Regions from separate parts of the Homo sapiens genome. Here all the other regions are linked to region 4. The links come from fine-mapping of genetic effects on gene expression. A gene starts in region 4. Each other region holds a variant in brackets. All regions are shown on one strand. Distances are between the middles of the regions.

The links. PIP is the estimated chance that this variant, and not a neighbour inherited with it, causes the effect.
Region 1: its variant is fine-mapped to the expression of ANK1 in tibial artery (GTEx, PIP above 0.99). The same link has a PIP of 0.9 or more in aorta and gastroesophageal junction.
Region 2: its variant is fine-mapped to the expression of ANK1 in whole blood (INTERVAL, PIP above 0.99).
Region 3: its variant is fine-mapped to the expression of ANK1 in esophagus mucosa (GTEx, PIP above 0.99). The same link has a PIP of 0.9 or more in nasal epithelium.

What each region holds. Positions count from the first base shown.
Region 1 is chr8:41,770,689-41,775,688 of GRCh38, forward strand. All of the region lies in intron 1 of ANK1 (ankyrin 1), which reads right to left. Among named protein-coding and RNA genes, the nearest start is that of ANK1, 24 kb to the right of the region's middle. The variant G/T (reference allele first, on the strand shown) is at 2,726.
Region 2 is chr8:41,650,092-41,657,995 of GRCh38, forward strand. ANK1 (ankyrin 1) reads right to left here. Exons shown (of 43, transcript NM_000037.4): 43 at 3,134-5,662. It overlaps NKX6-3 (NK6 homeobox 3), which reads right to left and starts at 726. Exons shown (of 3, transcript NM_001364841.2): 1 at 20-726. The coding sequence starts at 401. RefSeq lists enhancers at 3,243-4,036, 5,863-6,396 and silencers at 3,564-3,613, 3,634-3,703, 3,724-4,063. The variant GGT/G (reference allele first, on the strand shown) is at 5,038.
Region 3 is chr8:41,662,794-41,667,793 of GRCh38, forward strand. It overlaps ANK1 (ankyrin 1), which reads right to left. Exons shown (of 43, transcript NM_000037.4): 40 at 866-949. Among named protein-coding and RNA genes, the nearest start is that of MIR486-1, 4.8 kb to the left of the region's middle. The variant G/T (reference allele first, on the strand shown) is at 2,549.
Region 4 is chr8:41,794,644-41,799,643 of GRCh38, forward strand. It overlaps ANK1 (ankyrin 1), which reads right to left and starts at 2,979. Exons shown (of 43, transcript NM_000037.4): 1 at 2,869-2,979. The coding sequence starts at 2,895. LOC105379392 (a long non-coding RNA gene) reads left to right here and starts at 3,135. Exons shown (of 3, transcript XR_949708.3): 1 at 3,135-3,736; 2 at 4,351-5,000. RefSeq lists an enhancer at 4,052-5,000.

The DNA.
Region 1 (5,000 bases), 24 kb before region 4:
AGGGTTGAGGCTTTGAAAAACTTAGGCAGGCGATGAGTCAGGCAAGGCCCAAGAGGAGGAGAAAGAACACAACTACAAACATGTTGCTCAGTGAGGCCTGAGGCTAAAGGAGCTGAGATGATAAAGCTAAGGGAGAGAGCCCTTGAAACATAAATTCCAGCACTGCAGCCTGGAATGCCACATTGGAGCTAATTATATGGTGCCCAGTCCCAGGTGTGGTGGCCTGCCACCAGGACTGAATTCTAAATGTCTCCCAGGCAGAGACAGCTTGGTTCTCATGTTCCAAATTCCCAGTCCCTCTCCCTTGCTTTCCCCACCTACTCCTCTATGTGACTGGCACAGTGCCGGGCAGTGCTAAACACAGTGATTACTGACTGGTGTTAGAAGAATGATGTCCCCAACACTTCCATGAGTCATAAAGAAACTGTAAGTCTTGGGGTTCAATTGCTATGGAAAAGATTTAGATTCCACAGAAAGAACTTTCCAGCTATAAGAGATACGTGACTTAATAGAACTCTTTATTCAGAAAGGGTTTAATCTTTGCAGGAGATCCTTCAGGATGGCAGAAAAAAAAAACCTCAACATTTGATCTGGCATATAGACCACTGGGTAAGCTGTACGACTTGGAAGGGTCTCTTTGGGCCCTAGGGATTCAGAAAGCTAAACTATTGTTCTTTTCCCCATAACTGACTGTCCCCTCAACCTTCCATCACAACCACACCCTTAGACCACAAATAATCATCCTGCTTCTCCATCTGCATTTTGTTCATACTTCAAGGCTGCACGTTTTAACGTAGGCATTTAGTGTGCTAAGAACTTGCTAGTGAGATCAAAACAAACCACCAGAAAGGAATTGATGGGCTGAAGAAAAGGCTAAAGACTCTCGGCAGACACAGGCCACTGTTCTAGCCTGTAGCTTCATGGAGTCTTCAGGCTTTTCCCGTCTTGCTAAATATTTTACCTACTGTCTCCTTGCAGGTCTCTCTGCAGACAAGCATAATGAAAAGCTGGAGGCCTCGCCTGTGGGGTTCTGTCCTCTGGGCCACATGCAGCTATGCCAAGCAGGGATGATGTGGGAGAGAAGAAAGGGAAGAAATAGACTATGCAGCACTTAAACCCCCAGCTCGCTCCTGGCTTGATGCAGTGGGCTGTTCTCAGTATAGACAGGGACTCTGGGACACTTGATGGGCTGCTGCTGCTGTCAATTCCTGCAGGGATTTCACGAGCTGGAAGAACACAAGCCTGCAGCAAAGAATCCCATGCGAGTGGGATTCTCAGGCGACTCTGCCTCCCCAGGATGATTTGGGAGAACAGGTCCGGGCTGCTTCAAATGGTGGCCAGTCAGAGACATGAAGTGGCTCCTCTCTACAGGGACATCAGAGCTGAGATCAGGGCAGCCCCAGGATTCGAGAGAAGGGCATCCTGGCAGCTCAGGCCCTGTGGCAATGACCGTCGCGCTTAACCCTCCTATGCAATCAACTCAAACCCAGAACTCAATAGCAACAACACTATTTGCTTTCTGGACAGCCTCTTAAGAGGCTCTAAATCAGTAGGTCTCCCACAATTGAGCTGTGCAGCTTTTGATAAAGGAAATGACTTTTCTGAGCATTGATTTCTTCATCAGTAAAGTGAAAATAGCTTCACCCATCTCTCCAATATTGGGAGAATAATGTAAAATGCTGACCACCACTTCTGGCACATTTGGTAAGTGCTCTATCAATGACAGCTGATGCTCTTTTTTCCTCCTCCCCTCCATTTCTTCTCGACTAAAGCTTTTGTCAAAGGTTAATGTCTCCCCCAGAGGTGTGGGTTGTCACTGATCTTGCTTCAACACTGGAAAATCAAGGCCTCATCACTGCTTACCCAGGGTCAAACATCCATGGTCAAGATCAGGATCCCAAGAAATCTCAAAGCTCTACCCTGCACCCAGACCTCTTGGGCTTACAATGCACCCTTTTCAATGCCCATATTCTCTGCAGCAAAGAAACAATGTGTGGACTCAGTTGTGCCCCCACGCTCCCTGTCCGCAGCTGCCCTTGCAGTGTCCTGCTGCTGGCTGTGGCCAGCTGACCCGTTGGGCTCTCCTCCTGACCCTCCTTCCATCTGTTCCATCCTCACCCACCCAAGGAGCCGCCCCTGCTCCTAGAGACTCTGGGCACCACTGATAAGGGTGGGTACCAGGAACTCCACCCTTTACCGAGAAAGGCAGGCTGGTTTATCGCCACTCAGACCCAGCCAGCGACCACCCTGGGGAGTGTGTCAGCCACCAGGAGCATCGCTGTTGGGGAAATGTTATTAACTAGGAAGGAACTTTACAGAATGTTCCACACAAATGTCACATTGAATTCAATCAGAAATCCAGCCTGACCCCCCCTAAACCTGGTCATTCCTTCTTAACCTTAATGGCAGTGACAGAAGAAAGGGAGAGAGGAATGGAGTCTTGGTTGTTTTTCTATTTAACTTTGTGTAGGGAGTGCCCAGTGGTCAATTAAGGTGTCCTGGGCACCCGGCCTGGCTGGAGTAAGGGATGGCAAGTGCGGGGGTCTATTTAGGGAGGTGATCAGAGCCCGGATCAGGCCCCACAGAGTTGGCACCAATCTCCATCATGTTCTTTTTAAGAGGGTTGGCAGCCCTGGAGTCTATTTTTAAACCCATGAGAAAGGTGCTGTGTGGATTCCAAAAAGGGCCAACATTAAACCCGAGATCCCTGGAGGAGGGAGGGAAG[G/T]GGGGAGGCACAGCTGAACCTAGGATTTTCTCTTCACACACACAGGGGTTCCCCTTATTCCTGGGATCAGATATTGACTGTCCTTCCAAAGGGATCTCTTGGGTTACAGGCCCACTCTTTGGCATGGCTTTGGTGGAATTCGACTCCTAACGAGCTCGTGAGTTGGAAAGGGTTTTGCACACCGGGTCTCTTTTTCAGAATTGAGATTTTTTTAAATCCCTCTACCCCCAGTGTGAAAACTCCATGTGCTTTTGATATATCCGGCATCTCCCCCTTCTTCCTACTTTCAAATCACATGTTCTGGAACCCCCGCTCCCTCCTGCATGCACTGCAGAGCCCACAGCCGAGAATCTACAACAGGAAGATCCAAGGAAAGTCTAAGTTCCCCACGGCCACGGTGCCCAGCTCCCCAGAAACCCAGTCCCGGTGCTGGAGAAGGATGGGGAGTGGACCCAAGTGGCAAGCCTGCGGGGGACAGGATTATTTTCCCAATAGTGAGAAATAAACAGGCATCCAAACGCCACTGTTTCCCATCAAATAACCAGATGAAGCGAACAGAATGTTTTATGTACAATAACAAATTTCAGCTTCAGTATCTGTGTCTCTTTTTGGATAAGAAATAGAACCAGAATTCCTAAAGAACAAAATGCCTTGAGATTAAGCAAATGCTTCTGCTGAATAGTTCTGGGACCACCCAGGACCCCCTGGGCAGGGAAGTAGGAGACGAGGTCTCTTCTCATCTCCGCTCAACTCAGAATCCCCAAGCCTAGCACAGAAGCACCACTCAATACATGTTTCCTGAGCAGAACATGATGCAGTTTTGTGCCCCATGTCAACCAGGTAGGAGCTCCCACCAGTCATGCTGAAAACAACAGACATGAGTTTAAGCACAATGCTGGCCGCACAACAGAGGCTCCATAAACGTTAGCTGGATTGGAATCCAGTCAACTCAGATTTCTAAATGAATCAGATGTTCGGGGCTAGTTGACTAAATTGTCAATGTCCCCACGTGCTATTATAGCCCCTGTAGAAACAGCCTGGGGACCACTGTCCTCTTCTGGGCAGGGAAGTTTCAGGTGCTTCCCATCCCAGGGCCAGGGCCGTGCTGCAGAAAAAAGCCTCCACACCCCAACCTGCCCTGCCCATCCTTTCCCCACAATCTCCATTAGTCCTAAATTGCCAGTCCAAGCCCAAGAGAGCAATTGTTTCCTCAGTCCCAAGGCAGCGAAGCAGACAGCTCTTCAATAGTTCACATCTTTCTGCTGAGGGTGGGAAGATATTGGGGTGTCTTGTGGGTGCCTAAATAGAATTCCAAGTGCACCCGCATCACCAAGCACCCTGGCCCACGCCGCAGAGCATGCCACATTTCCCCACTGCGCAAGGAATGGGCTGCATTTAGAATTGACACTTCAGAACATATTGTGGACTGGGGAGCCGAGACTAGAGTGGAATTACACACATTTTGGAAAATGTGGATGAGCGGCACTGCCAGAATGGGCCCATTTACTAAACTACCTCCAGTGTTTCCAAACATTAGGGAAACCTTCCTCTGCGGCCTGCTGGTATGCGAGGAGGAGGAGCACATACTGGAGAAAATGCAAAATCAAAATCATTGGGAAGGTGCTAATAGGGAAAATAGGGACTCTTCTTTTTTTTTTCAAGTTGCCAAACAGGCTTAAGTACTGGCAGTGAACCCCATGGCTCCAGAGTTTCTGAAGGATGCCCAGGCGTTGGACAGCCCTGCATGGCACGCTCTTCCTCAGCAATGAAGAAAGATTCCCACCCTTCCTTAGAAATGCAACTTTGCCTGATATAAGCTGCCATCTGGAGCAGGCGGGGCCGACCAGGGGGTACCCTGAGACTCCTCCTTTATTTGAACAATTTGCCCCAAGGGACAGAGCCAGGATGGGTGGCCCATTGCCAGCCAGAGAGACCTGCCCAAGATTCCAGAGGGGCTTGTGACCCTGAAATTTGGGGTCTGTGCCCCTGGAGTTTGTCCAGCCTCTGGAGCAAGGCTTCCCTTACATGGAGAAGGTAGCCTTGAACCATCCATTGGGAACTAGGCCTGGAAGGCCCCGTCCACACCCTCTAGCCCATGATGATTCACCGCAGAGACAATGAGATACAGAAGTGAGAGCAGGAAGGGGGAACTGATTTGAAGATAATAATAATAAAGCTACAGTTAGCAGGGCATGGTGGCTTATGCCTGTAATCCCAGCACTTTGGGAGGTTGAGGCAAGAATATCACTTGAGGCCAGGAATTTGAGACCAGCCT
Region 2 (7,904 bases), 140 kb before region 4:
GGGGAGGACCCGTACTCACTGTTGCTGCACTGCCGCCCGCCTCGCCAGTCTTGGCCCGTGTCCGCCCAGCAGTTCCGGGTCCGGGTCGGGTACTCGTTCCCAGCCTTGGAAAAATTCCCTACCTGGGGGCTGTAGTAGACCCCCTGCGAGCTGAGCCCCCCAAAGCCTGCCACGTGGGGGTAGCCGGAGAGGAGGCTGTTGTTCGGCGCAGCCACGGGCCTGCTCAGGATGTCCGTGATCCCGTGGGGGGTTCCGGCGGCCAGCTGGGGGCCCAGCCCTGGGGGGCTGAGCTTGTAGAAGGAGTTCTGCACAGAGTACTGGCACACCGGGGCCTTCATCTCCGGAAACTGAGCCAGCGGCGTGTTGTTCAGCAGGAACGTCCCCTGCAGGTTGGACTCCATGATCTCCCAGTCAGGACAGGGAAGGCTTCTCCAGGCCCCTAAAACCCAAGAGCCCACTCTCTAGCCCCAAATCTCATGGCAGGCCTGGAGGCTTAGGACCGTCTCCGAGCTCCTGACTGCCTCCCACCTAAGGCATGGGCCAGGCCCTGGCCCAGGAACCGGCACCCGATCAGCTGCTCGGAAGTCAGGTGCTCGGGGCAGGTGGGAGGCCTCCCCAGGGCTCCTGGCCTCTCTCCTTGCCCTGGCCGGACAGGGTGGCCCCCTAAGCCTCAGCTCAGACCCCCTTTCTGCCTCTGAGTCGGGGGACCCTCCATGAGAAGTTTTAAGTTCAGAGAAGGAACATTTCCCTGATAAAGATACGGCCCATTAGAATACAGGCCGGAGACTGGCTGAGCCGCCGGAGCCGCGCCGCCATTGGTCGGGGCGCACACGGGCCTCACATTGGCTTTTCCTAGACAAATTGCACTTTGAAAGATTGACTGTACAATCAGCCAGGGTGTGTGTGTGTGTGTGTGCGCGCGCGCGCGCGCGCGCGCGTGTGTGTGTGTGTGTATGCGCGCGCGCGCGAGAGAGAGACAGAGAATTAGCTCTAGAAGCCCTACTCATCGCCGGAGGGTCCATTTGCTCCCCGCAAGTCTAGCATCTAGGAAAAGGTGAGCGTCTGGGGGCCCCTGGAGGCTCCCAAGGCAATTGGAAGTCACTGTTCCTACAGCTGCTCCCCTAGGGAAGAGGAGGCTGGACTCAGAGGCCACTGTCCGGAGCTGCGCCGGCCCCTTTATGTGCACATGTCCAAGCTCCACAGGAGAACGCAGCCGCTTCCTTCCCTTCCGCATGCGGGGATGGGGTAAGTGGCATAAGATGGGGGTAAGTGCGGGGATGGGGTAAGAGGCTGAGTGGCATTGCTTTCTGGGGGATGCAAGTCCCTGTGGCTGGCTTGAGAGCCTAGGGTGGGAGCCTGCTGGGAAGAGGGCAGCGCGGGGCGTAGGCAGCCCTGACAGTGCCGGGGTGTGAGTCCTCCAACTGCAGGAGGCTGAAGAGAGGGCCGCCCTGCACGCATGTTCTTGCCTCCACCTCTGGTCGGCCTTCCGTGACCTCCCTATCAGAATCTCTTCCTCATTTGTGCCTCTGCTGGAGCAATGGCCATGCTCTGTCTGGCGTGGTGCCCGGGTTTGAAATCCCTGATGGCTGAGAGGGTGGTGGAGCCCCGTGCCGGGCACTCCGTCGGTGCTCAGTTAGTAGTTGATGCAGTGGACTGGGCTGAATCACAGAACATGCATATGCTTTTTTTTTTCTCGAATAAATTTTTACAACATACAAGGCTCTATTGGGGGAAGCTCTCATTTTACAAACAGGAAAACCAAGGTATAGAGGAATTGGAGCCCACTTTCCAGGTACATGGGTGATTTCTGGACCAGGCAGGATTCTTCCCTGCAGTTTTTCTCTAAAACTGGAAACTAGCATGCCACTGGCCTGAACATGTAAAATGCTAGGAAAGACTGTGACTGCCAGACAGATGGACTTCTGCTCCTCTCTGTGCCTGGTGGCCCCAGAGCCCTTCCTGACCAGGCGTGGGCTCTGCAGGGCTTGCTCTCTCACTCCCCAGAGGCCGCCCTGGTAGGTGGGAGACTAGAGGCACTGCTTCACTGAGCTTCTCCTGGGTTTCCAGGCCGTCTTGGTTTTCAGTGGGGAGCAGAGGACCCAAGGCTCAGGGCAGGATTCCTTCTCATGCAGAAGTTGACCCTCTGTAGCACAGGGATTTAGGTTATGCAAGAAAGATCTCACAAAGGGTGTGGAATGATTCCCTACAAATTTGGTTTAAAGAGAAAAGAGCTACGTCTTCGTCTGAGATGGCTTTGCCACCAGGTCGCGTGCCACAGCCATCTGGTAGACCTGGTTCTGGTTCCCGGTGTCACCACCCAATTCCCCCCAGGCAACTGTGATTCTGAAACTGCATTTTTAAAAGCCCCATGGGTGCTGCAGATGACCTGCTGCGGTTGCCCACTGGCCTGAACGGCCTGTCCGATTCCAGGAGAGAGGCTGGGAGTGGGGTGGGGCTGGGGTGCTCCAGGGGCCTTGGGATTGTGACTCCGTCATCCCCTCATGATGGGAATTTATGTGGCAGGAAAGCCGCAGCCAATGATTTGATTCTTAATTAATGCCAAGCCTGACAAAGGCGTTGGTGTCTGGCGCCCCTAGGATGAGAAACTGAAGAGACTTTAGCAACCACCTAATCCATTCTCCCATTAGAGAGATGAGGAAACTGAGGTCAGCTTGGTGACCAGCCTTGCAGGAAGTGTTAGCAACTAGTTAGGAATAGGGCAATTTTTTCCCTACAGCAAGAACAAGTTCTTGAACTTTGAATGGCATTGAGTACTGGGGCCAGATGCCTTCCTAGGGAATGCTGGGGGGCCCCCTCAGTGCATGCCAGCTGGGGGCCTGGCCAAGAACCCTGGTGGGTTGTGGTGGCCCCTCCCCAGACCCCCAACTTCTCCCCATCTCATGGGAGCCATCAGGTGGAACAGAAAGCTACTCTGCCACCTCTCTGGAGGCATCTCTCAGGTGGGTGGTCCTGATTAAAGGGTTGTCCAGGCTTCTGGGAGGACTGGGCATTGGCGGGCTCTCTGGGACCTGAGCCCCACCCATAGACTCCTTCACATCACAACCCAGGCTTTACGCTGGCCTCAGCACCCCTAACCCCCCAAAGACGAGCGGGAAGGAGAGATAGAGCCCTGTGCCATTAGTCCATTTCTTTATTAATTTTGACATTGGTTCGGCTGGTGAAGGGAGAATGGTCTATACATCAGAGTAGGGTAGGGGATTCTCTCCCATAACAGAGCATGTGGGAGAGTCAAGAAAAGATCCATTTTCATAACAATTAAAAAAATCAAGGTAATTTCAAAACTTCTAAAAAGCGTCTAATGTGCAGACTGCAGCATTCTCTAGGCATCGTGTGGAGACCCCAAACTCCTCCCCTAACGGCTCCTACTAGCAGCCGGAGCGTGCAGCCATGCCAGCCGGAGCAGAGGTGCCAAAGCGGAGTCTGGAGCTGCGGGGTCCGCGGGGGCGCTAAGGGGGCTACTGGGTTGGCTGCAGCAGCGACCTGGGAGAGGAAGGTGCAGGATCGAGGCGGGAGAGGCGAGCCCTGAGCCCAGCTTCCTTGGGCCGTCACCGAATCGGTCCCAGCCGCGCTGTGCGGCCCCCCTGCCGTGGCCCCCGGGATGGGGGAGGATGGAGGGGGGCGCCTCTGCGCCCTGGAGGCCGGGCCGGGGTGGCCTCTGGCGGAGACGGCAGCCGTCCGGGCTCGCCCTGCAGCTCCTCCGACGCAGCCTCGGGGAAACTCAGGCCCGGAGCTAGAGCTTCCTCTCCCTGCCCGCCCCTCTAAAGGAAGCAAAAGCAGCCCCACCCCCGGCCGACAAGGCGCCTAGGCCGCCCCGGGGCCTGCCTGGCCGGGGGTGCACCGGGGCGGATTTGTGTGGGAAGCAGGGCCCCTCTCCGCTCACAGGCCCCGCGGCCAGGGGGCCTCTGACGTGGAGGGGGCTTCTGTGCTACTTGGAAGGTTTAAGTGTGTCCCGAGGACACTCCCGCAGAGCGGCGGGGCGGACGGGGCCGGGCCGTCCACACCGCGGCTCCAGGGGCGAGAGGAGCCAGCCCTGTCTCTCTCTCCTGGCCCTGGGGGCGCCCGCCGCGAGGGCGGGGCCGGGATTGTGCTGATTCTGGCCTCCCTGGGCCGGAGGCTCTAGTGGAACTTAAGGCTCCTCCCTGATGGCACCGAGGCGAGGAACTGCCAGCTGTCTGTCTCCTTCCTGCCTTGACCCAGAGCCTGGCCCCGGCCTCTGGGCGTCCAGGCTCTCCGCCTCCGACTCTACTCTCACCGGCCATGCGGTCCGGGGAGCCCCCTGGCTCGCCTCTCCAAGAGGCCACAGGGGCTGGGCAGAGGGGAGGCACTGAGGCAGGACAGGGAACAGCCTCGAGCCTGGCACCTGCACCCAGGGTCCCCAGCCTGCAGGCTGCCTGGACTTAGAGCACCAAGTTCACTCTGGGAGACCCTGGGTGGTCCTGACTTCTAAGACCTGGCAGATACATTCACTAGCCCTACTCCTTTCCTTCCTCTTTCACTGAAAGACAGGCCACAGCTCCTTCTCCTGCAGCCGCAGAAGTCCTCAGGAGCTGCGCTGTCAGGCTCTGTACGTACTGCTAAATGTTTCTATTGGTTTGCATAGTATTTATTGTTTTTCATATACACAAGGCTGATTACTGTACAGTTTACACTTTGAACACGGACTATGATATAGTGCTTGAAGACATAGAAAACCTCTTCTCTATGGACATGCTGGTGCAATCCTGGGTCAGCCACCGGCCTGTCCCCCAACTGAGAGAGGAGACCCTTTCAGATGGGGTCCTGGCTCCCTTTGAGTCCTACAGGTAAGCCTGGGGGTCCTCGCCTCAGATTCTTAAGTCCCTAACACAAGGAACCCCGAATGCACTCTTCAAGGTAATGATTTTCCATTGGAAGATGATTCGTATTGAAATTGGCAGAGAGAGAGACAACATAAAAAATTCCAATTTATCCACAGCAGAGTCTATACAGCTTCAGAAGTCACAGTAAAATCTGTGTGTAGATTCAGTGGAGGCGAGT[GGT/G]GTGTGTGTGTGTGTGTGTGTGTCCTGAATGTCATGTAGAGCGATCTGGGAGGAGCGTCACCAGGGAGTCGAGGGGGTGTCACAAGTGGAATGGAGGTATGTGGGTTGGGGAGGGTGGGCAGATGAGGACATGGCTTAAGATTAAGGTGTTAAACTGATTTCATGCCTAGTTTTCTTTTTTTTTTTTTTCTTTCCAGGAAGCCCACATGGATTTCTGACAGATGAGGTTGGGAAAAAGTACCCTGTACGAAGTCAAAACAATTTAAAAAAAAAACCCCAAAACCAAAACCCATCCCCAGCCACAAAAAGCCCTCATTCACTTTTGCGTTCGCAGGCTCTCCTGCGCTTGTTTTCTATCCCTCTCTCTCCCCGCTTCTTGCTGCTTTTGTGTCCTGGTTCCGACAGATCAGCTGTCATTGCAAGAGGCAGGATTGAAGCCTGGAGGTCATGCGTCTACAGTCAGTCATTCATGCCAAGAGGGGACTAGCAGGAGTCCCTTACAGAGGTCATGCCGTCAGCCCAGAGGAATGTGTGCACCGCTGCGGTGGCCCTCAGGTCCAGCTCTCCTCCTGTGTGCATGGCAGAGTGTGTGGGGTTCAGGGGTTGGGTGTCGAGGTGTGATCCTGGGAGACACAAAGAGAGAAGGAGTCACTTAGAATGCAAAAGTGCAACGTCCAGCAAAAACCCCACACACAGAGTTTTGTGCTGGCAGCTCAGGCCGAATCTGACTCAGGAAAAGCAGTCTCCCCAGGCAGGGCGATGTGCTGAGGGTGCTGCACTTGCAGCCCGACTTCCTGAGATGCCGCCCTCCTTCTCTTGCTCCCTATGCAGAGGCTGTTCCTCAGAGCCGCCACCCAGGCCTCATGAATTCCTTCTGAGTGTGCAAGTGTTCCAGGATGCCTCTCTGTATGGGCCAAGGAGAGCACTGTGCTCTGTGCCCTTGGAGAGGGGCAGAGGCCCCCGTGCCTACGTGGTCACCTGGGGAGACATCCCCCAGCAGATCCTTGTACTTAGGAAGAGCCATTTTTCTTGAGCCAGGGCTTGTGCCAAGAAGGGGCTAGGTGAGGCTAGGTGAGGCCTTCACTTTCTCAGTTCAGCTCTGCCAACATGCACTGATGTCCGCCATGCGCCAGCCTTGGGAACCCAGGGATGGAGCGGATGTGCTCCCTGGCCTTGGGAGCTCATGCCTCAAGGGTGACAGCTCCCCTTCAGCTCTGGCCCACAGCACTTCCTGACCGCTGCCTCTGGCTGCTCTCCCCATGCCCCTCAGATGGACAGAGATCTCTGAAAAGCAGATGCATCCTCCTCTCCTCCTCCTGTATTGAGTCTTAGGCTGGAAAAGAGCAGCTTTGCTGGAGGAACTAAGCCCACATTCTTCAGCCTGGGATTCGCAGTGAGAAACCTCTCCTGCCCCCATGGGGCCTCCAGCCTCCAACCTGGGGTGAAAACTCCATGTTTTCAAGACCAGCCACTCATGTTCTATCTGCAGGGGCCCTGGGACCACTGGGGAAAGGAGGATGCTTCAATAAGGAGGAGGTGACAATCTCTTGGGCAGGGTGGGAAGTGACACAGGGAGGCAGGAGCTCATTCGGAGGTGGAGCCATCCCCAGACATAGAGCTGTTTTGGGTCCTCCAGGTGAAGGGGTTGGGGAGGAGTGTTGGAAGGGAGTAGGGAGAACTCAGCTCTTGGGTGGTTCCCCAGGGATGGGAGGGTGGTGCCAGGTTCCTTGCCAGGGGCTGCTGTAGAACTGTAAAGCCAGGAACTGCTGCTGCAGTGGGTGGACAGTGCTGCCACCGTAGAGGGAAGATGCTTTCATCACTGCTGGGCCATCACATCGGCCAAGTCTGACTGTCTCCTCTAAGCCTCTGAACACGCTCTACCCTCCTGTTCTCTGCCTTCGGTCACGCTTCTGTCAAGGCTGCCTTCCATTCTCTTTTCTGCAGAGGTTCTGCCTGCCGCCCTCAACACCTCCACCCCACAAAACCTTCCTGATCCTTCCTGGAGCAGGCCCCTCTCCACTCTGGAAGCTCTCCCTTTTGTATTTTGTAAAAATACAAAATACAAAAAAGAAAAAAGCTGCCTTTTCTGTTCAGGAGATGGCAGAGTCGAGTGGGTAAGAGCATGAACTCTGGAGCCAGACCACCCGGGTTCAAGTCCCATGCTGCCTGACCTCGGTCAAGTGCCTTACCTGCTCTGTGAGTCAGTTTTCTCTGCTGTAAAATGAGGGCAGTAATAGGGCCTACCCATTAGAGAGGTGTGATGTTTAAAAAAGCTAAGACACATAGGTGCTTAGCATTGTATGAATGCAAACAATTACTTGGCTCTCTAGAAATGTTACCGTCTCTGTCCATCTGTGCTTTTTGATGTCTGCATATTTCCCTGACTAGATTAGAAACACTGAGGGCAAGAACAGCCTCCTGGTGCTCCCCACGGTGCCTGCCCCAAGAAGTGCTCCTCAAATAAGAGACCATCATGGAATATGCAGCCTGGGAAAGACAGGCTAGGATCTCCCATCTACTTTACCGCCCAGGCACTGAGCAGAAGAGAAAGTTCAGACCTCAGAGATCATGCTGGCATGACTGCCCATTTCATCCCTTGGTAAACTGAGACTCTAGAGGCACAGTGGCAAGAGCAGGGGTGAGATGAGGACCTAGGCCACCTCACTCTGCCCAGGACTCCTGCATTGTTCTGGCCTCTTCTCCTGGGTCCCCTCACCTTTCAAAAGCTTAGAAAAGAGTCTCTTTCATTCTTTATTTTTATTTCATTTAGAGACAGAGTCTTGCCCTGTTGCCCAGGCTAGCGTGCAGTGGTATAATCATAGCTCACTGCAGCCTTGAACTCCTGGGCTCAAGCGATCCTCCCAC
Region 3 (5,000 bases), 130 kb before region 4:
CGAGATCCTGCCTCAGCTCCTCCTCTATTTTACCCATAGCTAGCACCGTGCCCCACACTTGACAGGCAAGGTCATGTCTCTGAGTTAATATCTGCTACCAATCCAATGCATTTTCACTTCCTTTTAATTATTTAATTATTGTGATGGGGTCTCACTCTGTCACCCAGGCTGGAGTGCAGTGGCTCAATCATAGCTTATGCAGACTTGAACTGCTGGGTTTAAGTGATCCTTCTGCCTCAGCTTCCTGAGTAGCTGTGACTACAGGCATGCGCCACCATGCCTGGCTAATTTTGTGTGTGTGTGTGTCTCTCTCTCTCTCTCTGTGTGTGTGTGTGTGTGTGTGTGTGTATTTATTTATTTTTTAAAATTTTTTTTAGAGATGGAGTCTTGCCATATTGCCCAGGCTGGTCTAAATGTCTGGGCTCAAGCGATCCTCCTGCCTTGGCCTCCCAAAGTGCTGGGATCACAGGTGTGAGCCAGCACACCCGGCCCACATTCTTTTTATTTGAGGAGGCCCATGGTAGGCCAGGGATGCTCAAACTGCTTGTTTAACAGCTGTTTTCAGGGTTAGGCATCATGGGACTAGGTCTGGGATGTTTCCTGGGGGCTGGCCCTTCTGGAAAAGAGCAGCAGAAGCTATTCAGGTTGACTCAGACAAAGCGGTTGTGAGGACACCATGACTGGACTGCAGATGACCAAAGCTCCCAGCTCCTGGGCCCTCCATCCCTCCTGAGCACGGGGGCAGCCAGCCTGGCTGTGCTCACCTGCTGTGAGGGCAGCAGGGAGAAGCCACTGGCTTCTACCACCTTTTAGCTTCTAGCCCACCTGCCTCTCCCCAGCACAGAGGGGAACACTCTGCACCCACCTTCTTGGTGACAATGTTGCCCTGCTCATCCGTGAATTGCTCCTCTGTCACCTGCTCCCCTGGAATATTCTGAAACTCATTCCCCTGGAATTAGAGAAAGGGAGAAAATGCAAGATTGGTGAGTGGGAGTCTGGGAGGAAGGGTGGAGGACGAGGAAATGAAACAGCAGTAGCCACAATAGCCATGGCCCAATAACTCCCCCAGCAGGAAACCCGGCTCAGCATGTAGCAGGAGCCATGCCAGGGCTCCCAGGGCGTGGGCGGCGCCCCTGAGGGTCTGGGAGGCCTGAAGACGAACGGTCGAGCTCACAATTGTGCACTTGGCCCTCACAACACCCCCTGGGAACCTGCAAAATGGGGGCAATTATGCAAGTCTGACGGAGGAGGCCCTGAGAGAGGAAGTGAGGCACCTGTTTCCTATTTTTACAGCACTTTGCAGTATAGAAAAGCCCTTCGACAGGCAGCATCACCCAGAATGTGACTTGCTTGAAACCCCAGAGCCAGTTGGTGACAGAAACAGGACGATCCGGGTGCAATCCCATGGTGGCTCACGCCTGCTATCCCAGCACTTTGGGAGGCCAAGGCCGGAGGACCACTTGAGCCCAGGAGTTCAAGACCAATTTGGGCAACATAGCGAGCCCCCATCTCTACAAAAATTTTTTTAAAATAGCCAGGCATGGTGGTGTGTGCCTGTAGTACCAGCTACTCAGAAGGCTGAGGCAGGAGGATCACTTGAGCCCAGGAATTTACAGTAAGCCCAGGTTACAGTGAGCCATGAGCATGCCACTGCACTCCAGCCTGGACTAAACAGCAAGACTTCATCTCTAAAAACAAAAGAAAAAAGAGAAGAGAAGAGAGAGAAAGAAGAAAGAAACAAAGAAAGAAACAGGATGAGCGCAGCCTCCCGAGACCCAAAGCTGAGTGTTTAATGTCACTGTCACAATGCACTGGGCACCAGAGGGCAGGTTCTGGTGGGCGCACACACACTCTGGCTCCCAGGGTGGAACATGATCCCTGGGGGCCTCCTGGTCCTTTTCCTCCGGCGTCTCCCAACTCTGGGTCCGGAGCTCCCCACAGCAGCGTCCCCTCAGCCCCGGCCTCCGGCGCCCACACCACCAGCCCTGCCGGCCTCCTGCCAGGCGGTTACCTTCAGGAAGACCCGCCGCCGGACCACCCTGGTGGAGATGGTCTCCTCGTCGTCACTGAGGCCCTCGCTCTCCCCCAGCTCCTTGTCCAGCTCCTGGTGGATGTGCTTTAGCACAAAGCACAGGGACCCCCTGACAATGTGCATCACGTTCTGACAGCTGACCAGGAAGAAGCTCAGCAGCACCAGCGTGACCAACAGCTGGGTGACGAAAGTCCACATCCTCGCCTCCTCACCAGCCCGGTCCTCTGGCAGCCAGGGCCCCGGCCACCACGGGGGGCCTGCCTCTCATTCTCCACTGGGACTCCTGAGTCCCCCAGGGACCCCTTGCATTCCCCCTCCCTATCTCTCTGGTTTGCTCTCTTGGTCTCTCACTGTTTCTCTCTCTGTGGGCAGGACACCGAATGGCCCTCTCGGCTGAAGCAGCCCGGCCCAAGTGCCCTTCTGCCCAGCAGCCAGGCTCTGCCCTGAGTGGCCCGGGTGACATCACGCTCCTATAATTTTACCTCCCCAAACCAGCTGCCGGAGCTGTCCAACCGG[G/T]CTAGAAGGAAGCCGGCAGGTGCCCATGTCCTGAGCACTGAAAGCACAAGTGAAAGTCACTGTGTGAGTGACACCCGCTGCTGCCTAACCCCGCCCTGCCCAGAGACCTGGAAGTGGGGGCTCGGCCTCTCACCTATCCTGCCCATCCCCATGGGAACTAGAAAGAGTTCTGCCCAGGGAAAGTTTCTTACTTTCAGAAAATAATACAGTCCGAGAAAGCAGCTACTTGTGTGTCTCCTTGGGCTGCTACTGCGGTGATCCAAATGCTGTTCCCCGGCATGGTAGGGATGAGACCAGCTAATACCCTGGGTACTTAGCGGTCTGTTTCAAAAATTGCTCCAAAAGGGTGAGTGATGGGCTCAGGGACAGTCAAGTGAGCCCAGCAGGGGCCCAGCACAGGTGGTGGGGCCACCTGGAAGCCGGTCTGTAATTCCTGTCAGCCCACAGGCCCTTGCACCCTTCCTTTATGGGGTACAGCCTCCCAAAACTGAAGCATGGAGCTGGTGTGTCTATTTAAGGCCTGTTCTTAAAGGCTCTTCCAGGGCTGGGCTATCAACGCCCACTGAGCAGGAACAACGCGTATTAAACTTGTATTTACAGAGCTGATTCACAAATGTAGCCGCAGCAGCTGCGGCTGGAAAAAATTTCACTTTCTAGATCAGGTTGTTCCTCTCTGAGTGGCAATGCAGCATGGCAGAAAGAACACAGATCTGGGACACAGCAGACTAACCCTGCAACTCACCTACTGTGGGGTCTTGGGAAGGCTGGGGACCTTCTCTGTGCCTCAGTTTCCTCATCTGTGAAGCACGGATTAAAGTGCTCTCCCCACCCTTTCTCAAGGCTGCTGGGACAATCATGCCGCTTATGAATGCTAACACTATGAATGATAATGGCAAACGCTTGTGATAGTGCATGGTTCTATGTGGATTTCGCATTAATTCACTGACACCTCACCACAGTCCTAACCAAGGAGGTTCTATCGTCTTCCCATTTTACACAAAGGAAACAGAAGCAAAGTATTCTGCCTAGGTGGAGGAGTAAGTAAACGGAGGAGTCACATTCCAAATGCCTCTCACTCCACAATGCTGCTTATTTCAACAAGAAAGCACGGGGAAAAGTATGTGCAAAGAAGCCGGGGAAGCATCTGGTTTTGGCCCAGTCAAGAAGAGTCCAACTTCAGATATTTCCTCCTAAGTCCTCAGAGAAATCAGCTGGGTCACAGTCATTTCAGGCCACCTCCCAAGTCCCAAGTTACATGCAATCTCTCTATCTCCATCACTGTTTTCAGAGGTCCAGTGGAAATACTAATAAGTGGGTGCTTTGCAAACCATCAATCACCTTCAAGGGCATCCTTATCAGCCCTCGGGGCCTGTGAGATGGGCACCGGCAGCAGCCTGCCAGGCCCTCTGATCGGCGTCTCCAGTTCCAGGCTGGGCATGCTGGCCTTGCACGTGCATGCTGGACGTGAGGATGTAGGGCTTGGGAACTGAGGGATCTGGACCCTCCTGGTCCCTGACATTGGTCCACTGTGTGACCCTGGAGAAAGCCCTTGGCTCCTCTGGTCCACAGTGCCCTCATTTATAATTGAGGGAGTTGGATGTGTGATCTAGAAGGCCCTTCCAGTTCCCCTCACCAAAGGCTGACCACAGAGGGGCAGTGGAAAAAAGTGCTGTAGGCGTCTTTCTCTTTCCCCAGGGATTCAGGAGAAGAGACCCAGTTAAGATCATGTGTGCTCTGGGAGCAGGAGAACTAGGCGCCCAGGAGGGCCTGATGGAAGAAACGGACGGGCCGCCTGTGGTGAGGAGTGCACACAGGCGCTGGCCCTGCCCGGGGCACATACTTGGCAGGGGAGCATTCTAAATAAAACCTGACTGAATTCCTAGCAGTTCTATGGCTGGCAGCTCAGGGCCTTCCTTCCAGAGCCACCCTAGTCCTGGAGTCTAAGGTTGAGGTAGGAAAGAAGGGAGACAAGGAAAGAAAGAGAGGAAGGAGAGGAGAGGAGGAAGCACCATGCCTGGATGAGGCGTGAAAACAGAGACAGAACATGTCGTTCATGTACATACTAAACACACGCATGTGGAGAACAGTGGTGCATGTTTTATAAGAACACAAATGGAAAAGACACCCATTAATACGATGGCCAGGATATGCTTCCAAATAATAGTCAGTGGGAGAAAGTGGGGGGTGCAGATGAAACAAGATTGGCCACGAGTAGATCATCATGGGGCCTGGGAATGGGGAAGGGGGATTGAATCGAACAAAATAAAGTTCAACAAACTCGAAGGGAATCCGGGGAAGTGGAAGAAAGGAGGGAGGGCCAGGAGAGGGAGAGGCCTGGGAAATCAGGAGCAGGAGAGGAGACTTCTCTCTATCCCAGGGCCCCTCTTCTACTTGGTGACCGCCATCCAGAGTCCACGTGAATAGCCACAGAATTCCAGAGCCAAGTAACTTT
Region 4 (5,000 bases):
GCCCCAACAGGACCTAATACACAATAGGTGCTTCATAAATGCTTGTTAAAGGTTTTTGTTTGTTTGTTTGTTTGTTTTTGAGGCAGAGTCTCACTCTGTCACCCAGGCTGGAGTGCAGTGGCACCATCTCGGCTTACTGCAACCTCCACCTCCCAGGTTCAAGCGATTCTCCTGCCTCAGCCTCCTAAGTAGCTGGGACTACAGGCACACGCCACCACGCCTGGCTAATTTTTTTTATTTTTAACAGAGGCGGGGTTTCACCATATTGGCCAGGCTGGCCTCGAACTCCTGACCTCATGATCCACCTGCCTTGGCCTCCCAAAGTGCTGGGATTACCGGCGTGAGCCACCGTGCCTGGCCGTAAAGGTTGTTAAACAGACCTGGAGGACAAAGGTTTTTAGTCACTTCACCTTTAGAAAACACTCTTATTTTCTCTGTTCATTTTGGCAACACCAACAACTGAAACCCTGCTTTTCTAAATATATTGCAGTTTGATTAATCTCAAAATAAGTCAGCTGGTTTTGCAGAGACACTGGCAGAACCATTTTGGGGTGAGAGGTGGCAACCTGGGTTTAAAAACTATTATAGGCCAGGCGCAGCGGCTCACGCCTGTAATGCCGGCACTTTGGGAGGCTGAAGCGGGTGGATCACCTGAGGTCAGGAGTTCGAGACCAGCCTGGCCAACATGGTGAGACTGAGACTTAAAAATACAAAAATTATCCAAGCATGGTGGCACGCACTTGTAGTCCCAGCTACTCAGGAGGCTGAGGCACGAGGATTGCTTGAATACAGGAGGCAGAGGTTGCAGTGAGCCAACATCACACCACTGCACTCCAGCCTGGGCAACAGAGCGAGACTCTGTCTTAAAAATAATAATAATTATTATTAAATAAATAAATATAAAAACTAATTACAGCTGCTTGAGCCACGAAAAAGAATGAAATCATGTCATTTGTAGCAACGTGGTTGTAACTGGAGGTCATTATGCTAAGTGAAATAAGCGAGGCACAGAAAGACAAATACTGAATGTTCTCAGTCATACATAGGAGCTAAAAAAGTTGATTTCTTGGACCTAGAGAATAGAATAATAGATACCAGAGACCAGGAAGGGTGGGTGGGGGGCAAGAGAATGAAGAGAGATTGGTTATGCGTACAAACATACAGTTAGATAGAAGAAATAAGTTCTGGTGTTTGATAGCAGCTTAGGGTGACTATACTATAATAGCAACAATACCGTGTACATTTCAAAGTTACCAGAAGAGAGGACTTGTAATGATACCAACACGTAAAAATGATAAACATTCAAGTCTATGGACACCCCAAATACCCTGTCTTGGTCAGTACACATTCTATGCATGAAACAAACACTCACATGTATTCCACAAATATGTAAATTATTATATACCAATAACAGAGAAGAAACTAATTATAATTGACCCATAAAGTCAAGGGTGAGTTGAGTCTATGGATCCTGGTTACAATAAACGTCTTCAAGCCTCTGTCCCCTTTGCTAATGTTTTCATAACCGAGTAACTCACTTCAGCCTCACAGCAGACCCATTTCCCAGACAAGAAAACTGAGACACAGAGAAAAGTGGCTTGAGGCTGTAACTTGATTTGTGAAAGAAGGCTAATTTTACCCATTTTTTCCATCGGCCATTCCTTATTCCTGCAAAACACTTGCGTTTGAGTCTGAAGACAGTTCACACATTGCACGGGACACCTGCAGTCACCTGCCTCCTTCCAAAGTTGGCTATGATCAGGTCTCCAAGACTCACCCTGAACCTCTGCCCTAGAGTGGTGCCACAAGAGGAAAAAGACTCTACCAACTTAACCTGAATTGCTTGCCGCTGGTGGAACTAAAGTGGGAGGCCCAAGCTTCCTCTACAGAGCCTCTCTCTCCTTAGAAAAAAAAAAAAAATCAACCAGGAAAGGCAAATTGTACAGATGCCACTAAAAAGAAATTCCCGCTTAGTATTGCTTCCTCTGCACCCAGCGACTTTTAGACAAGCAGAAGACGAAATGCCCTGCCCGCGACTAAACCAGACTCCTTTTCACTTACTACCCTTTCAGCGTGTGTGTGGCCTGATGTCCAACTCTGGGCTCTGAATCCATCACTAAACTAAGAACCGTACCCAACAAAGGACACTGACACATGGCACAGGCTGGCCGTGCTGCCAGGCAGAGATAGGACGGGTTCTATCTACACAGGGAGAACAAGAAGGCTGGAGTGGCCTTGCTAACGCGCCATTATCACTTGAAAAATATCCATGAGAGCCTATCTCCCCAGGCCACGCCGCCGCTCTTTCCCTTCCTTCGTAGACATATTTCTCTCCATGAATTAACAACATAAATTAAAAGAACCGAGCAGGTGTGACCATGAGACCACCGGCCTCCGTGAGTCTTTGAGAAAACAAGCCAAAGTCCCCTTCCAAATGACAGTGACAGCCCCCTAGCCGGGTGGCCCACCCCGCAGCCTGTAATAACACACCTACAAAACGCAGTTTAGCAGACTCAAAGGAAAGCCTCTAAGATCTCAATAGATTTGGACTATAATCCAAAAACCATCCCTCCCCAGCGCTATTGCTGACAGGACATAATTCAGAGACCCAGGTAGTTGGAACTCAATTTGACAGCAAATCTCTGGATGTAAAAAATATGAAACTGGCTTCAGCGAGTAGGGCAGAGTCCACCTGCTGCCTTCAGCTACAAGGTCGATGTGCCGCTATGCTAAGGCAGGGAGCCCACGGGGAGGCGAGGCGGGTGGGGTGTGCAAAGCTGCTCTTGCTCGCGTGCTGCCTACTGGCGCGGCCTGGGTGGCCCCCTCCTGACATCTCCCCGTCCACCCGAGCAGCCGCCCAGTACTCACTTCGCGGAAGCCCACAGAATAGGGCATGCCGGTCTTTCAGCAGGGGCCCGCCGAAGGGCCTTGGGGGCTTGAGGAGGAGCAGCTGGGGCTGGCGGACTCACCGCAGCCTCTGCGGGGCCTGTGACGTGCGGGCCAGGCCCCCGAGGGCCTTATCGGCCCCAGAGGCGCTTGCTGTCGGGCCGGGCGCTCCCGGCACGGGCGGGCGGAGGGGTGGCGCCCGCCTGGGGACCGCAGATTACAAGAGCACCTCCTCCCCCAACCCCAGGAGGCCCCGCTCCCCAGGCCTCGGCCGGCGCGGACCCCTGGTTGCCCCGGGGTCGAGAGCAGCCGGGGAGAGCTGAGTTCAGAGCCCAGAGTTGGACATCAGGCCACACGCTGAGAGGGTAGTAAATGAAAGGGAGTCCGGTTTAGTCGCGGGCAGGGCATCTCCTCTTCTGCTTGTCTAAAAGTCGCTGGGTGCAGGGGAAGCAATACTAAGCGGGAATTTCTTTTTAGTGGCATCTACACAATTTGCCTTTCCTGGTTTTTGTTTTGTTTTGTTTTGTTTCCTAAGGAGGGGGAGGCTCTGTAGAGGAAGCTTCGGCCCTGGGTGCCCCTGGGTTGGGAGCAGTCGGGGAGCGCTGAGCCAGGGCGCACGCCCTGTCGGCGCTGCGGGTGTGGGGCGCAGGAGTCCTTCTGGCCGGCCCCTCCGCCCCCCGGGGAGGCTGGAGCTCTCCAAGGCCGGGGAGCCTCCCGAAGCGCGCTGCCCCCTCTGTTCTCCGCGTGCTTTCACTAGGGCCCCATGCTGCTTAGTGGCCGATTTGCAGGGAATCTGGGCACAATCTTAATAACACCAGGGCCAAAAATAACAACGTTCCTGGGAACCGAGGTGAGTCACCGCAAACAGCGGCTAGGAGGGCGTGGGATGGCGCGGGCAGGGGGGCGCCCAGGCGGTCCCGCAGCTGCCAGAAGGTCGGGGCTGCCCACCAGCCAGGCTGGACCATCCCAGGCCAAGCTCCTGCAGGCCTGGCCTAGGAAGCCGCCTTTTGCAACGTCCGCCCGTCCAACAACGGGATGAGATGTCATCTGCCCAGAATGGCTTTATCAGTGAGAACACCATATCCTGGAATGGCAGTTGGTGGCTGGCAGAGGGAACAGGTGACCCCGAGGAGCTGAGCTGCGGGGCCAGGGGCATGGCAGCCTCCCTGGACCCTGGGGGTGGTGCCATTAAGGTGGGGGCTGTCTCCCTCCATGGTTTCCTCTAGGGGTGGGTGTCACCGCTGGGGGCCTCTGGTGCAGTCCTCCCTGAGAAGGGTCTCTCCAGCCTTCCTCACGTGATGCTTGGCCTCCTGCTGGGCCCACGCTGGTCCAGGTCCCCTGACGAGGCCGCCATCTGGCTTTAGAGCTTTCCCGCAGCACCAAACTGGCCTTGCCATGAGGGCACAGCTGCTGCGGAAAGATGCCACCGAGATCAGCTTCATGACCCGTCTGTGTTTTCCACAGCAGCTGGAGCGCACCCCATGGACGCTGGGCCATCTCCCCGGGGACTAGTGCCTGACAGAGCTGACAGAGTTCTAGGCCACATGTGGGCTAGAAGGAACCGCCATGTCTACCACAGCACAGTCCTTAAGCAGGAGCCTTTTGAAGCACTTGGACTCAAAACAATGGCTGTTTGTTGTTGTTGTTGTTGTTGTTTGTTTGTTTTGAGGGAGCCAGAAAGCTAAAAAATGTAAAAGAAGCAGGTCACATTAGACATGATTTCAGACAGCCTCCCCGAAGGACAGATGATCTCACTTGGCAACACATACTGGGCCAGGCTCACTCATGAGGGGGCAGCGTGGCATGCACCCCACTCAGGGGCAAGAATGAAGCTTAAATATTAGCTGACTCAGAACATAGCAAGTGCTCAGTAATGGCTTCTGGAACGAACCCGTGGTTGTCACCAGCAGGAGTGACGAAAGCTAGAAGCCGTTTCACCATCCAAGGAAGAGGAGGAACAATATTTTTCTCTTTGGAGTTCCCACACTCAGAAGAGAGAACACCAGCATATGAACACAGAGTGTCACATGATGTAGGAAACATCCTGTAGGTAGAGAGTATAATTCCAAAGCTTAGGATCCTGCTAGTTCCTTGTGCAGTGCTTCCGGTGGGCA